2 separate regions of the Homo sapiens genome follow, and region 2 is linked to region 1. A link means that fine-mapping ties the variant in region 1 to the expression of a gene that starts in the linked region. Tissue or cell type: whole blood. Region 1 holds a variant in brackets; the other region holds the start of a gene. All regions are shown on one strand. Distances are from middle to middle.

Region 1 (8,101 bases):
TTCCTCAGTGGACTAGGTGGTTTAATTTCCATCACGGCTCTGACATTTTGGCATTCTATATTTCTGAGATTACTCCAAACTCCACTCAGCAGGAAGCTTCCCTTAGAGCTAATCTTGATCTCTTTCCCTGTAGCTCATGAGGGAGGTGACAGATGTGGTTCGGGAGTATACCTGGGGGACTCAGGGGCCTCTGCTCTTGGTTGTGACTCCTAGATTATTCCTGCCAGGCACACATGTAATGGGGCAGGGGCAGAGAGAGAAGGAGAGAGAGAGGAGGGAATAAGGAAGGAAGAGAAAGGAAAGGAAGAAAAGAGGGAAGGAAAGAAAAATGAAAGAGGGAAAGAGAAAGGAAGTGAAATGATATGAAAGAAGAAAGGAGGGGAAATGAAGGAAAACAAAAGAGAAAAGCAAAGCAAAAGGGCTCATCGTGGATGCAGAAAGCAGCCAGCCTTGCCAGTAAAGTAGCCAGGGGTACATGGAGGGGATACAGAAGGCTGTTTCTGGTTGTTGCAAACCCTGTCTGTGTGAATCTGTAAAGTGGGTGCAGTTCTGGGTCTTGCTGAGCCTTGGGCTGGGTCGTGCTAGGGCAGAGTGCTCTGGGCAGGGGCTGGGGTCCGGGAGTCAGCCCACTCCTCTGCCCAGGGCCTCCTGCCACTGCTTTGCTGCTCCTTCTGAAAACAACTGAAACCGCAAAATTGGCTTGTGGTCGGGTGACTATCAGTCACTGCTATTCAGCTTGGCTTCCTAGGATGACTAAGGGGGTTAAAAGTCCCTCCCATTAGCCCCCCAGATTTTCAGGGGAGTCAGAGGCCAAGACAGAACATTGTTTTCTTTGGAGGCTTTTGCTAGGGTCTGAGTTCCCAAGTGGCAGGGCCTGCGCGCACTGTGTCTCGCAATGTCTGTGGGTTCAGGAGCTGGGGGGTCACCAAGGTGGAGGTAGCAGTATCCCTGGGCTTGCACACCCAGCAGCTTGGAGTGGGGAGGGGTTGGGGTGGAGGACGCCTGGGTCATCAAAAGAGTCTCCTTTCAACATGCCTCTTCTGGTCCCAGTTCTCGGGGTAGCTAAGCTGCTGATGCTGCTAGTGGGACTGGGTATCATGGGTCCCCTTGGCAGGGCCTGGGCACCAGCTAGGCAGCCCAGCTGCTTGAGCTGCAGAGAGTGCTGGAACTGCCCCTGCTGTGCTGAACATCCCAGGTGCTGGGTCCTCCTGATTCCCCATGGGGTTAGAAAATTCACAACCTGGGAGGCAGGAGGGTGGGCTCTACAGGGTTCTGTATTCCCTTTTAGTGGCTCTGAGCCGTCTTGCTCTGACTCGATTTCTCCTTGAGATGAAAGGCTTGGATTATCTCAGCACTGACCTTTCGCGTATCTGTGATGCTAGAGAAGAAAGGGAAAAGGCAACCACTTTGTAGACCCGCAGGCCCCCTCACCACACTGCCCGGCTATCCAGAAGGTCCTGCCCACATCCAGCGCTGCCCTCCTCTCTCTTTGTGACTGCCCGTGGTCTCAGTTTCTCTCTTTCCCTCTCTTTCTTTCTCCCTCTGTCCTGCTCACTTTCTGTTTAGGCTCCCTCATACTCCCCCCACCCCTGACAGCGAGGTGCACGTGAGTTCTTCTGATTGCTGACCTAGACCTTCCTAACCACTCCCCGGCTGGGTTCAATTTCCCCAAGGGGTGAGACCCTCCCCAAACTCTCCCACCTACATCCAGGGTCTAGGGGTGGAGTTTTGATATCTCTTTGAGCCCTCAAACAGATGGGAAGGTTGAGGGTCTGCATGGCACGTCTGTGACCTGCCCCCACCAGGCCGAGGGTCCTCTGCTGGGAGGAGGAGCCAGTTTTCTGAGAGGGAGGTGCCGGTATCCTCAGAGACTCCTGAATTCCCAACCCTTCCCTCCCGAGGTGGGCGGGTCTCCTCACAGGGAGGCGGAGGGAATCCGCTTAATACCCAGGGATCAATGCCAAGCGGGGGAGCGGGACGCCGATCAGACATGTGACTCGGGAGGCATGATGAGCACGTGCAGACCCAGAACGTGTGAAGAACATACGTGTGGAAAAAGTTTGTGTCACTGATAGGCACATCAGAGGCATGACACCTTCCTTCCCTCCTCCACCCGCCCTCTCCCTCGGGGGGCTAGAGGGCCCCCCTACATACCAACCACACACGTGTTTTAAGTGTGTGTGCACACGCACACATGCAGCCGTCTGGAAGAGCATGGCCGGGGAGCTGGGCTGGAGGGGTGGAGGGGGAAGGGAGAGGAAGGCAGGGTCGCCCCACCCCCACCCCGTGCCCGTGCCTACCGAGTGCCGCCTCCCGGTGGCTGGTGAGGTCTCTGCCCCCTTGACTTTTCCCTGCTTCGAGGAAACACCTCCCTTTAGGGGAAAGCGAGATGGTGAGGGGAAGGAGGGGAAGCACTGACTCTCGGCAGAGGCATGAGCCTGATTTTCCAGTCCGGGGAGGGGCGGAGGGAGATGGCACTGGGGACGCCCGGGCGATGGGGCCTGACTCAGAGCCAGAACCACAGGGCTCCTCCGCTGTATTGTCGTCGGGGAACTAGAAGCCACCAGGTTTATAAGAAACTGCAATTCATCTCTGCCCTCTTCCACCCCTCTGCAAGGGATCAAGGTTAGACTAGAAGAAGAACTTATAGCCCGGGGCAAGAAAGGGACTCTGCCTCAGGTGATTTTTTTGGAAGCCTTCCCTGGGTTTCTTCGAGAAGAAGGGCCTGCCCCAAGGGGGTTAGATCGTAAGAAGAGCCTGGGGCCAGGGCGTGGGGCCCCCCATTTCCCTGTTTGTTGTCAAGGAAAGCCCCCTCCTCACTTCCAGCCCGGAACAGGAGCTCCTAAGAGCTGTCGACAGAGCTACTGCTGAGGCTGCGGCAGGGGCATACAGGGATCCCCAGAATCCCAGGCAGTCTGGCTGGCATGGAGGGGATGAGGCAGCTGGTGGCTCCACTTGGCTCTGCTGCCTCACTCTTGGCCACTGGCTCACGTGTCCCAAGGTGAAAAGCAAGAGGGAGGAGAGTGCAGGTTCGATTAGCAGGAGGGCAGAGCAGAAGGTGTGATGAACTTAGGCGTGGGCAGAAAGACGGAAGCACTGCCTGGCAGGGCACATGCCCAGTGGCATTCTCTTCCCATTCTAGGAGCTGCCCAGGCCCCTTCCCTCCTCAGGCAGAAACACCTAACAGCTTGGATGGCTGGCAGTGGGCTCCGTTGCCTGGGGCAGGGAGTTTGGAGAAGTGAGGAAGGCTCCTGCCTCTCACTCCACCTGGAAACCAGGACTCCTGGGTCCTTCCCATCTGGACTCATCTTCCTCCACTGCCACAGTGGCTGCTGTGTGACGAAGCTAGTCCCTGCCCCTTTCGGTCTCTCAGCCCTGCTTCCCCACTCCTACCCCATCAGCAGGATGGGATTTGCTGAGTAACGGGGTCGGGTTCTGCAGGGTCATCAGACAGAAAGGACACCAGGAGAGGTGAGAAGAGGCCTGGGTTGAGGGAAGGGTAATGTCAATTAGGACACCAGGATGACTTCCCAAAACATAGGGGAACACTCACTGGGTGACATAGAGGGCCCTTCCATCTTGCCTTTCTCCAGAGGGAATAAGGAGAAGGACTCAGCCCGGGTTGGGTTGGGTACCTTATAAGGAGAGAGGGTCAGGGGATAAAAATAACTGAGAGCCTGGGAAAATTGTGTCACCTCTCTGAGCACCAGCTTCTCATCTGCAAAATGGGAACGATAGTGTCCTCTTCACACAGGTGTGGGAGGCTCCACTCAGGAAAGTGCACAGTAAGTGTTCATTAGGTCACCAGCCATGTGATCTTGACAAGGTATTTAACTTTTCTTTTTTTTTTTGAGACAGAATCTCTGTCTGTTGCCCAGGCTGGAGAGCAATGGCACGATCTCGGCTCAGTGCAGCCTCTGCCTCCTGGGTTCAAGCAATTATCCTGTCTCAGCCTCTTAGTATCTGGGATTACAGGCATGTGCCATCACGCCCGGCTAATTTTTGTGTTTTTAGTAGAGATGGAGTTTC[A/G]CCATATTGGCCAGGCTGATCTCGAACTCCTGACCTCCAGTGATACACCCATCTCAGCCTCCCAAAGTGCTGGGATTACAGGCATGAGCCACTGTGCCCAGCTGGTACTTAACTTTTTTTTTTTTGAGATGGAGTCTCGCTCTGTCACCAGGCTGTAGTGCAGTGGCACAATCCCAGATCACTGCAACCTCCAACTCCCTCGTTCAAGCAATTCTCCTGCCTCAGCCTCCTGAGTAGCTGGGACTACAGGCGCGTGCCACCACACCAGGTAATTTTTGTATTTTTAGTAGAGACGGGGTTTCACCATGTTGGCCAGGATGGTCTCAATCTCCTGACCCTGTGATCCTCCCGCCTCGGCCTCCCAAAGTGCTGGGATTACAGACATGAGCCACTGTGCCTGGCTGATACTTAACTTTTTTATATCTCAGTTTCCTTGTCTGTAAAATGGGAACAATGGTTCCCACCCAGTTGCCTTCACACCATTGTGAAGTCTAATGAAATCAAAGGTATATTGACTAGTCTTAACCAAAAAAAAAAAAAAAAAAAAGAAGAGAGAGAGAGAGAAAGAAAGAAAGGAAATAAAGGGTACGAGTTGCCTGGGGATGTTCTTTTTTTTTTTTTTTTTGACAGTCTCTCTCTGTTGCCCAGGCTGGAGTGCAGTGGTACAGCCTCAGCTCACTGCAACCTCCGCCTCCCGGGTCCAAGCAATTCTCCTGCCTCAGCCTCCCTAGTAGGTGGGATTACAGGCACCTACCACCACGACCAGATAGGTTTTTTTGTATTTTTAGTAGAGATGGGGTTTCACCATGTTGGTCAGGCTGGTTTCGAACTCCTGATCTCAAGTGATCTGCCCACTTCGGCCTCCCAAAGTGCTAGGATTACAGGCATGAGCCACTATGCCTGGCCGGGATATTCTCTTATCTCATCCTTTACCCCTCAACCCAGAGTGGTGATAGGAGGAGGGGGTTAATTAGGAAGAACTGGGGTTTTTACAGTTTCCAAACTCACTGGGAGTCAAGGATTGAGACAAAGTACAAGCTAGATTTGGCAACATCCAGGGTCATGCATGGGAACCTGGGAGCCCCATGCCCCACTGCCTATTTGCAGGGCCCTGGGTCTTGGGTGGCCCTAGTTCAGTGTGTGCATGTGTGTGAAATGCAAGGTGATGAGGTCAGTATCTCAACTCCCAGTTACTGGTCCAGTTGCTAAGAACTTGCCTGACCATAACCATCCTTTCCCAACTCACAGAATGTCAGGTTCTGATGCCAGTGATTGGAAAGAAATGGCGGTGAGCAAGGAGAGGGGGCAATGCTGGGCAGCCATGCCACCTTTATGTCCCCTGTGGCCAGAGACGTGGGTCCAGGGCCCTTCTCAGTGCCCAGCTCGGTCCAGCCAGCTGCCCATGGCCCTGGTGGGAGGAGGTAGGCTGGACGCCTTCTGACACTTCCTGGGTAACTGAGCGGGGCAAGCAGCAAACAGCAGGCTCCTGGGGAAATCTCAGACTTGTGTGTCAGAGCGGATCTGTGTCTGGGGTGGTAAGTGGGGTTAAACTCAAGGTCAGACCTAGCCAATCCATTTTCGCGCCAACATGGCCTTGGGTGTCCTCCATTCCAGTGGCTGGGACCCAGGTGCCCACTCAGCTGGAGACAGCACTGCTGGGAGCCTAATGCCTGGTTTGTCCCTCTGCTTCACACACTGGTTGCTTGCCTGATTTCTGCCTGTGCCTAGGATTTATAAGGAAGGGAGTTGTGGCATGTGGATCCCAGGCCTCCGTTCTACTCCCAAATTTCAGGTGCTAATCTCTCCATGAGTTTCAGTGACCTCAGAAAAGGAAATGGGATTAAGCTGCAATTTAAGGGGTTGTGGGAAGACAGCTGAAAGAATGTCCCAGTCTTCAGTAGAGGAGGTGGGAGGTGGCTGTAAACTGCCTAAATCGGGGGAACACTACCAGGAATCTCAAATTGCTGTACAATGCAGACACAGTCAATCAGCCTCCACCTACTTAGATCTCTAAGTGCTTAGAGATCACCAACCTGTCCCAGGCTCCTGAGTCTATTACCTCACTCCTCCTTGTTCTCTGCCTTTCCCAGGCTACTGTGGTTATGATTTGTGGCAGAAGTTGGGAAGGCAGAAAAGGAGAGAAGGAGGGAAAAGGACAATCTGAGAACAAGCTGGAGGGCCAAAGTGGACCCCTTGCAGAGTTGGCAAGATGGCAAAGGGGATGCAGTGGCAGGTGAATTAGTTCAGATGGGCAAGAAATGTAGGATAAGTCAGCAAGCTGCCTTTGCGCAGGAGATCCCTAGGTGAGAAGGTAAGAAGGGCTTCCACATGCGGCAGTAGCCTCAGTGTTTCTGGAATGGAGTTTGTATATATGTTGTGGGTGGGGTAGGGGGAACAGAAGAAGAGCTGCAGCATCCTGCCTTTGAGGAGGAAGATGGTACAACAGGAAGGCCAGGAGGTGGGCTGCAGGTAAAATGTCCCCGTGAGACAGGGTTGAGGGAAGCAGAGGGCCAGCTGCTGGGCCTGCAGCCTTCTTGCCCCCACTCCCAGCTCACCCGCCCACTGCAAACACTCCTCAGCTCCCCCACCCCATTCTGGCCCACAGCCCTGGGGAAGCGACATGGCGTTCTCACCACGGACCCAGTGCCGGCTGTGGCTTCTTCCCTCTGACCTATTTTTTAATCATTTGATGGGATTTTTCCCCCCCAAACCAAACCCCCAGCCCCCTGGGCCCGTCAGCTCCACCGCGTGTCAAAACCACCCCTGTCACTTTGCGTTGGTTTCTCAGTCCAGCCAGCCCCTCCCCGCAGGGCCTGAGAGCGATGGCTAATTACCCAGCTGCTGAACGCCCCCCACTCCTGCCCCTCCACCCCTAGCCCTGACAGAGGGGCCCTGGAGGACTGCTGGGAGAAGCTGGGGCCTCCTCACCCTCCCACTGCTTGGCAGGAAGTCCTTCCTGCTGTCTAACCTCCATTCTTCCCTCTGTCCTGCCCCTAGTGGTGCTGAATCGCAGACACAGAGGCTGTTGGTACTATAAGGGTCTTTGGGATACCTCCTTAAGGGACAGAAAGGGGCAACTAGTCTTCTGTCCTGGGTTTAGGGATGTCTTCTGTCACTCTGGCTCTCTAACAGAATTCTAGGGGATGGTCCTTGCTGTCTCATTTTACAGAGCAGAAAACTGCGACACACAGAGGGAAAGGGCCTAGCCCAAGGTGATCTACGCCAGTGGCGGAGCCAGAATCAGAACCTAGAGTTCCATGTTTGTCTTTCCACCTGTTTCTGGGTCCTGTTTCTGGTATGTAGAGGGCCCACCCCCACATACCAACTAGGTCTGTTTCTGTTTCTGTGCAACTCCGCTGCCAGCCCTGAGCAGGTGTGTTCCCTGCCATGCCCTCTCTCCCTTGCCCCCTGGCCACACAGAGCTTCACCCTGGCATTTCAGGGCTGGGCAGCTTGCTTCAGGCACTATTTAGGAATGGGACTCTTTCCCCCAATACCACCCATGCCCTTTTCCCTCTTCCTCTCTCATTCATCCCTAACCAAGTCCGTAAGTCTGCTCTGTCTCACCCGCACCCTGAGACATTAACCAGGTGGACAAGGCAAAAAGCTCTAGGCCAGACACAGGAAGGCCAGAGCCAACTCACAGATGAGGCCTAGTCCCAGATGGACAGATAGACATGCAGGAGATACATGGAGCGCTGGATAGCCCTGGAGACACGGACAGTGACATGAAGATGCAGAGACAGACACAAACACGCTACAGAGACAAGGCAAGTTCCGAGGCCCACAGGTAACAGACAGACACAGAGACGCAGACAGAGGCACAGAACCTACACTCAGGACCAGCGTGCAGACCTCTCACAGGTCCCAGGGATAGGAGTGGACGTAAAGAGGATACACAAGACGCAGGCAAAAACACAGGGACCCAGAGAGGGGCCGAATCAGACCAGAGGAACCCAGACACTCAGGAGCCCTGAGAGACATGGGCACACAGGGCTGCCCACAGATCCCAGGAAGCCAGAGAGAACCTTGGGGAGAGAGGAGGCCCCAGGGGGTGGGTGGCCCTCTGAAGG
Region 2 (8,084 bases), 400 kb before region 1:
AAAATGCCCATGCTACTCAAAGTGATCTATAGATTCAATGCAATTCCTATCAAAATTCCAGAGTTATTTTTCATGGAAATAAAAAAATCCTAAAATTCATATGGAACCGTAAAAGATCCCAAATAACCAAAGCAATCTTGAGCAAAAAGAACAAAGTTGGGCCAGGTGTGGTGGCTCACGCCTGTAATCCCAGTACTTTGGGAGGCCGAGGCGGGCAGATCATGAGATCAGGAGTTCAAGACCAGCCTGGCCAACATGGTAAAAAAAAAACCCCGTCTCTACTAATAATACAAAAAAATTAGCCAGGCGTGGTGGTGCGCGCCTCTAGTCCCAGCTACTTGGGAGGCTAAGGCAGGAAAATCACTTGAACCCAGGAGGTGGAGGTTGCAGTGAGCCGAGATTGTGCCACTGCACTCCAGCCTGAGAGACAGAGCCAGAATCCATCTCAAAAAAAAAAAAGCAAAAAAAAAACAAAGTTGAAGGCATCACAGTCCCTGACTTTAAAATAAACGACAAAGTTACAGTAATCAAAACAGCATGGTATTCCATAAAAACAGATGCATTGGCCAATAGAACATACTAGAGAGTCCAGAATTTACAGACAATTGAATTTTGATAAGGAGCCAAGAACACTCAATGGGGAAAGGAATCTCTTTGATAAAAACTGTTGGGAAACCATATATCCATGTGTAGAAAAATGAAATTGGACCCTTATCTCACACCGTATACAAAAGTCAAAATGGATTAAAGACTTACCTGTAAGACTGGAACTACTAGAAGAAAACATAGAGGGAAAGCTACTAGAAGAAAAAATAGAAGAAAGCCACTAGAAGAAAACAGGCGGAAAGCTCCACTACATTGGTCTGGGCATTTTTTTGGACATGACCTCAAGAACACAGGCGAGAAAACAAAAAATAAACACATGGAATTACATGAAACTAAAAACTTCTGCACATCAAAGGAAACAGTTAACAGAGTGAAGAGACAACCTGCTGAATGGGAGAAAATATTTACTAATTATACATCTGACAAGAGGTTAATATCCAAGATATACAAGAAACTCAGTAGCAAGAAAGCAAATAACCTGATTTTAAAAATAGACAAATAATCTGAATAGACTTTTAAAAAAAATTTTTTTTTGTAGAGATGAGGCTTCACTATGTTGCCCAGGCTGGTCTCAGATTCTTGGGCTCAAGCGGTCCTCCCACCTTGGCCTCCCAAAGTGCTGAGATTATGGGTGTGAGCCACCATGCCCAGCCTGACACAGCCATTCTTAAAAGAAGACATACAAATGGCCAACAGGTTTGCGAAAAAAAAAATCACTATTATTAGGGAAATGCAAAATAAGATTACAATATCACCTCACACCTGTTAGCATGGCTATTAAGCTGGGTGTGGTGGCTCACACCTGTAATCTCAGTACTTTGGGAGGCTGAGGTGGGCAGATTACTTGAGGGTCAGGCGTTTGAGACCACCCTGGCCAACATGGTGAAACGCCATCTCTACTAAAAATACAGAAATTAGCCAAGTGTGGTGGCACATGCTTGTAATCCCAGCTACTTGGGAGGCTGAGGCAGGAAGATTGCTTGAACCCAGGAATGGAGGTTGCAGTGATTTGAGATTGTGCCACTGCACTCCAGCCTGGGCAACAGAGTGACTCAATCTCAAAAAAAAAAAAAAAAAAAAAAAAAAAGAATTGCTATTATCAAAATGATGAAAAAAATGTGTTGCTGAGGATGTGGAGAAACCTTTTACACTGTTAGTGTTATTACAGCCATTATGGAAAACTATATGGAGGTTTCCCAAAAAATTAAAAATAGAACTACCATATGATCCAGCGATGCTATTTCTGGGCATATATTGAGTAACTGAAATCAGTATATCAAAGACTTATTTGCACTTCCATGTTCATTTCAGCATTATGCACAATCGCTGAGATAATGGAATCAACCTGTGTCCATCGATGGATGAATGGATAAAGAAAATGTAGTAAACATATGCAATGGATACTATTCAGCCTTAAAAAAGAATTTCTGTCATTTGTGACAACATGAATCAACATATGCAATGGATACTATTCAGCCTTAAAAAAGAATTTCTGTCATTTGTGACAACATGAATCAACTTGGAGGACATACTAAGTGAAAAAAGCCAGGCACAGAAAGACACATACCACATGATCTCACTTATATGTGGAATCTTAAAAAGTCAAACTCATAGAAGTAGACAGTAGAATAGTTGTTAGAGGCTGGAAAGGGACGGGGCGGGTAGGAGATGCAGGATGGGGAGATGCTGTTCAAAGGGTACAAGGTTCAGTCAGACAAAAGCAGCAAGTTTCTGAGATCTATTGCATAGTGTGGTGACTATAGCTAATAATAATATATCGTATATCTCAAAACTGCTAAGAGTAAATTTCAAATGTCTCACCATAAAAAACGTTAAACAAGGTGATGGATATGTTAAGCTTGACTTAGTCGTTCCATATTGTATACATATATTAAAATATAACATTGTACCCCATTAAATATTTACAATTATGATTTGTACATATATTTAATAATAATAAAAATCTAAATAAAATATTAAAGAATGCCTACAAAGCAAGGTTTAAGATGTAAATGAACACAGTAGTATCACGGAAGGGATTAAATATTGTAACATTTATTGAGCACTACGTATATATTTTTGAATTCCCACAACCCTGGAAGAATGAGAAAATCGAGACTCAGGGAGCGTTAAGTATTTTGCCCAACTGCATACGATAAATACATAGGAAAAACAAACACACAGAAGAAAACCAAACCAACCAAAGTATCTCTTTCAAAAGGAAACGACAGTCTCCTTAAAGGCAACCCGAGACAAATTTCAGCAAAGCCGTGGGACACATGGCCTTCGAGCTGCTGTCCATTATTGAGTAGCAGAAGCCAAGAAGGATGGAATGTTTTGGAAGAAAGGGGTCGGGGGTCGGGGTGTTCAAAGGACGGACCGAAGGTAAGATTGAAGTGGGGTCAGACCATGGCGGGACAGCGCACCGGAGAATGAACAGCGATTAGGGAAGAGTGGCGAGCGGGTGGCAAGGACGGAGGGCGGAATCCCGGCCGGGGCTGCGGGAGGAAAGCGCACGGACAGGAGCCCCACCGCTCGAATGCAGCGCCCGGCGGCTGGCCTCGTGAGGTCACAGGCCCTTACGAGGTGGGGCAGGCAGGCGCGGCCGCAGTGCCTTCCAGTCAGCGCGGAGGCGGTATTGAGTTCAGCCGCTCCCCACAGCCCCGGAGCCCCTGGGCGGTGGCGGTGGCCGCGGCAGCACCGGCTCGACAGCCGATAGGGTCCTGGGCCCGCTCCGCTCGGGGTGGTCGGTGGGCGGAGCGTCGGGCTCGGTCAGGTGACCGCGGGGGCGGGGCCGCGCGGCGCGGGATCCTGGGAAGGCTGCAGAGCTAGAGCAGCGCCGCCCGAGGGGCGGCAGGGGCTGACCACAGAGAGCGCGGGGGCCTCCAGCCGAGAGGAAGGGAGGGCAGCTCGGGCCGGTAGTGGGACCCTTGGGGGACAGAGGTGGGGAGGGGAGGCGAGACCCGCTGAGGAGTTGGGAGGGGAGCCTTCGAGGTGGAGGGTGGAGAATGCAGTAGGGTGCGAGGGAGGAAGGAGAACAGTGGTGGGGCTGGGTGAAGGAAGGTTCCAGAAAGGAACAGTGAGGGGACTGAGTGGGACAAAGGGGCAGATTGAAGGGTGACTGAGACTGATCAGGTGGTTCCTCAGAAATGGTGGTTGTTGTAGAAGGCTGGCGGTCCCGGGGGTGGTGTCACTTCCCTGCTCCTTCAGCGGGAGGCGGAGACCTCTATTAGCACACTCATTTCCATCTTGCGGGTCGTTCACTCGCTAGCTTACAGGTCCTCTTTCTTCCTGTAGAAGTCGTTGGCTTCGTAAGAGCAGGGTCTATGGGAAGCCTCCTCAGCGTGGGTTCTTGGAAGAGGTGGAGGTTCGTTCACTCGACGTTTGTTACACAAATATGAAAACAGGGTGACGAAAGTTTGAACGTTCATGAATGGCAGTAGCTGCAATGGAGTTGTGTATGCAGTTGGTATTAATGACGTTTTCAGTCCCTCTGGCGAGAGAAAAGCGAGCGAGTCGGGCGGCTTGTGAGGGAAATGTGGCATGAGAGGAAAGAGGAAGGTATTTTGTGAAAGGATGTCATACAGAGTCATGCTTCAGTGAAGACGCCTTTGTTTTTCTCATCTTAAAGCCTCACAGCCCCATTTTCCTCTCAGCTACTGCCTTATTTCTCTTAACAACGTAACTCCTTGAAAGAGCCTACCCTACTGGCTGGGTTCAATTTCTTTACCCCGTTCTCTCTTGTACTCACTCTGACGACATTGTCTCCTTACCACCCCACCCAGATGGCTCCTTTCAAGTTTGTCAGTGTCCTCCGTGTTGTGAAACCTAGCGAACCATTCAGTACTGATCTTAACCGCCCACCCCACCCCCCTTTTTTTTTTTTGAGACAAGGTCTCTGTCGTCCAGGCTGGAGTGCAGTGGTGCAATCATAGCCCACTGCAGCTTCAAACTCCTGGGCTCAAAAGATCCTCCTGGCTCAGTCTTTGGAGTAGCTGGGACTAAGGTCGCCATGTCCAGCTGATTAAAAAAAAAATTCTGTAGAGGTGGGAGTTTCACTGTTGCCCAGGCTGGTCTTGAACTCCTGGCCTTAAGCAGCCCTCCTGCTTAGACCCCCACCCCCGCATCAAAGTGTTGGGATTACCTGCATAAGCCACCATGCACAGCCTGATTGCTCACTCTTGAAGTACTTTCTTCACTTGGCATTCAGGAACCCAGACCTACCTGATTTCCCTCCTCACAGTAACCAGAGTGATCCTTTCAGAAAGAACTTCAGATTATGTAATCCTTCTCCTCAGAACTCTTTCAATGCTTGTCACTCCTTCAGAGTACAAGCCACAGTTCTTACTGTCATCTAGGGGTCCTCCATGATATGCCACTTTCACTTAGCCTCTCTGATCTCTCCTGCTTCAGCCTCCTGGGGCCTTCCCACTATTCCTTGAACATTCTTCTTGCCTCGGGGCTTTTGTACTTACTTTTCTTTCTGGCTGAAATGCTCTTCCCTAAGATATTAATCAGCTCCCTACTTCAGTTCTTGCAGGTCTGTACTCAAAAGTCTCCCTCTCAGTAAGGTCTTCCTTGGCCACCCATTCTGTTCCCTGCATCTCTTCCCCTATACTACATTTCATATTCCCCTCCCTGCTTTACTTTTTTTTTTGTACTTATTGCAGATAACATACAATATGTTTTATTTTTCTATTTTATTATTTCACTCCCTGACTAGAACATAAGCTTCATGAGGGCAGATTTTATATATATATAAACAAAATATATATATATATATATATATATATATATATATATATAGCATATATATATTTTGTTCATTGGTATATCCCTAGAGCCTAGGAGAGAACCTAGTGCACACTAAGCATGCAGACATATACGTTGAATTCATGGATAGAAAGGTGAATGGATAGATGACTGGAGAAAAGGGATACGACTCCCTCCATTTCTCTTGATTTGTTCCTGCAAGTTCACCGATAGAAGACAGGATTGAAATAGTTGAGAAAAATTATATTGTCAGAGTTACAGGGAATAGACTTTCTAAGTTAATTTTTTCTTTTAAGTTTGGAGAGGCTTATGCGGTACCTGATTCATCCAGCAAATTAAGACCTGCCAACTTTTTGATAATCTCGTCAATAAATTACAGAACAATTGTTCCTTTCAAGATTTATTCAAAACGTGTCAACTCTGCTTAATTAAGCACTTTGATGATTTAAGAAATCTTGGTGAGTAGCTTAGTAGGAAGGGAATTTGTTCATTCATCCCTCTCTCCCTCTCTTTTCCCCTCCCTCCATACCATTCCTCCTTTCCTCTACTCTTTCCTTCATTATATATATACCATTGTATTTGATACTGTGAGAAATAATTTTAAGAATGATAAGTTACCAGTCCCAGTTCTTTATAAATTTAGGCTATAGTTGGTATAGGAGCTATACATATGAAAAATACAAATACAAGGCAAATGATTAATGTCAGTTAAATAGTGAAGACAAGAATAGTGAAGGCAGTAAGTGCTATGCACAGTAGTTTAGAGGTAAATATTGAACTGGTTGGAGAAGATCTAGAAGAGATTACGTAGGATGGGTTACTGGGGAGACCTGCATAGATTTCCAGTATTTTCTGAGATGAGTATTTTCAATGTGGTTCTATTTTATTTTAACATATTTTGAATTCCAGGAATGTTGGACATATCACATTGAAAAATAATGACTATAAACATATGTCAGAAATAAATAAAAATGATTTTAAGTACTCTGTCTTCATTAGAATATTAATACTTGCAGTTAAACTTTACAAGAAAAAGACTGATGATTATAACTAGCAATGTAATATAATGTAATATAGCTAGCACTGTGATAAATAGCTCATAAAATGTAACTCAGATGTGAGTTGAAAATATGAAAATTTGAGGAATTTCTAAGTGTTGGTTATCACATTTGCATAATGTGAAAGTCTTGAGTTTGAAGTGAGGCTACACCATCTTTTCTTTCTTTATTTTGTTTTGTTTTCTTTTGTTTTGTTTTTTTTGATACAGAGTCTTGCACCCAGGTTGGAGTGCAGTGGCGTGGTCTTGGCCCACTGCAACCTCTGCCTCCTGGGTTCAAGCAGTTCTTTGCCTCAGCCTCCTGAGTAGCTGGGATTATAGGTGCGTGCCACCACACTCGGCTAATTTTTGTATTTTCAGTAGAGACGGGGTTTCATCATCTTGGCCAGGCTGGTCTTGAACTCCTGACCTCGTGATCCACCTGCCTTGGCCTCTCAAAGTGCTGGGATTACAGATGTGAGTCACCATACCTGGCCTTTTTTTTTATTTTTGAGACAGTCTCACTGTATATCCCAGGCTGGAGTGCAGTGGTGCGATCTTGGCTCACTGCAATCTCCGCCTCCCAGATTCAAGCGATTCTGCCTCAGCCTCCTGAGTATCTGGGATTATAGGCGCATGCCACCACGTCCAACTAATTGATTTGTATTTTTAGTAGATACGGGGTTTCACCATATTGACCAGGATGGTCTCAATCTCTTGACCTCATGATCCGCCCACCTCGGCCTCCCATAGTGCTGGGATTACAGACGTGAACCACTGCGCCCGGCCTACACCATCTTTTGTTTGCAGTAGCATTGTTTTGAAAGGCAATGTTCTATGGGACTGAAGACCACAGGCTTGGAGTTAAATTGTCTGAATTCAAATTCTGTCTCTACTATTTGCTGGCTGTGTGATCTTGGGAAACTTGACCTCTTCAAGTCTTTATCATGATATTTAGCACACAGTAAGCATTCAGTAACATGAGTGATTACTACTGTCTTAGCAGTTCTGCTTCTCAGGGTTTATTTAAATAAACAGATGTAATTGGATTTCTCAGCTTTGTATGCCATTTGAAACTGGATTTCTCAAACCACAAAAGGTAAAGTTAAGGAATTGGATGATCTGTGATTTATAGTCTACTAACTGCTTTTTCTAGTGTTTGCCCACATATCTGTGTTGGTGAAATGTTGTGTATCATACCCCAAGTCAGTGTTACATTGAAGAGATAACTTCAGGTAGGTAAATATAATTGCTTAAGTGTTCTAAACAAGCGTATGATTTCTTCTTTCTCTTTTTTTGGCAGGAAATCCTTTTGTACTATTGCTCATTCATACTTGTTCATCAAAGCCTGGAGTCCTTAAGGACAGAATTTACCTCTAAACAGAAAGATGGAAACTAAAGTACATTTATTCTGCCAGGTATTTATTTAAAACAGTTTCTAAAGATTTCTTCTTTCTTCTTTTTAAAATTAGTTTACATTACCTCATATTCATAATCAGTAAGCAAATTCATAGAGTAATAGTTATAAGGAACCTGGCCAAGTAACTGAGATGATGTTTGAGTCATTTTAGTGAACATGTATTGAACTCCCATCCCTACAACCCATATAATACTGAGAGATCTTCTGTGGTGTATGATGAGAGTATTTTGGTGGGGTACGGACCTGGAT

The links. PIP is the estimated chance that this variant, and not a neighbour inherited with it, causes the effect.
Region 2: EFCAB13 starts here. The variant in region 1 is fine-mapped to the expression of EFCAB13 in whole blood (INTERVAL, PIP above 0.99).

Annotation. Positions count from the first base shown.
Region 1 is chr17:47,718,913-47,727,013 of GRCh38, forward strand. No RefSeq gene overlaps it. Among named protein-coding and RNA genes, the nearest start is that of TBX21, 10 kb to the right of the region's middle. The variant A/G (reference allele first, on the strand shown) is at 4,030.
Region 2 is chr17:47,320,551-47,328,634 of GRCh38, forward strand. EFCAB13 (EF-hand calcium binding domain 13) reads left to right here and starts at 3,405. Exons shown (of 25, transcript NM_152347.5): 1 at 3,405-3,524; 2 at 3,904-3,973; 3 at 5,676-5,837; 4 at 7,719-7,833. The coding sequence starts at 7,804. EFCAB13-DT (EFCAB13 divergent transcript) reads right to left here and starts at 3,351. Exons shown (of 3, transcript NR_110880.1): 1 at 3,139-3,351. RefSeq lists a silencer at 3,134-3,543 and enhancers at 3,884-3,973, 4,014-4,193.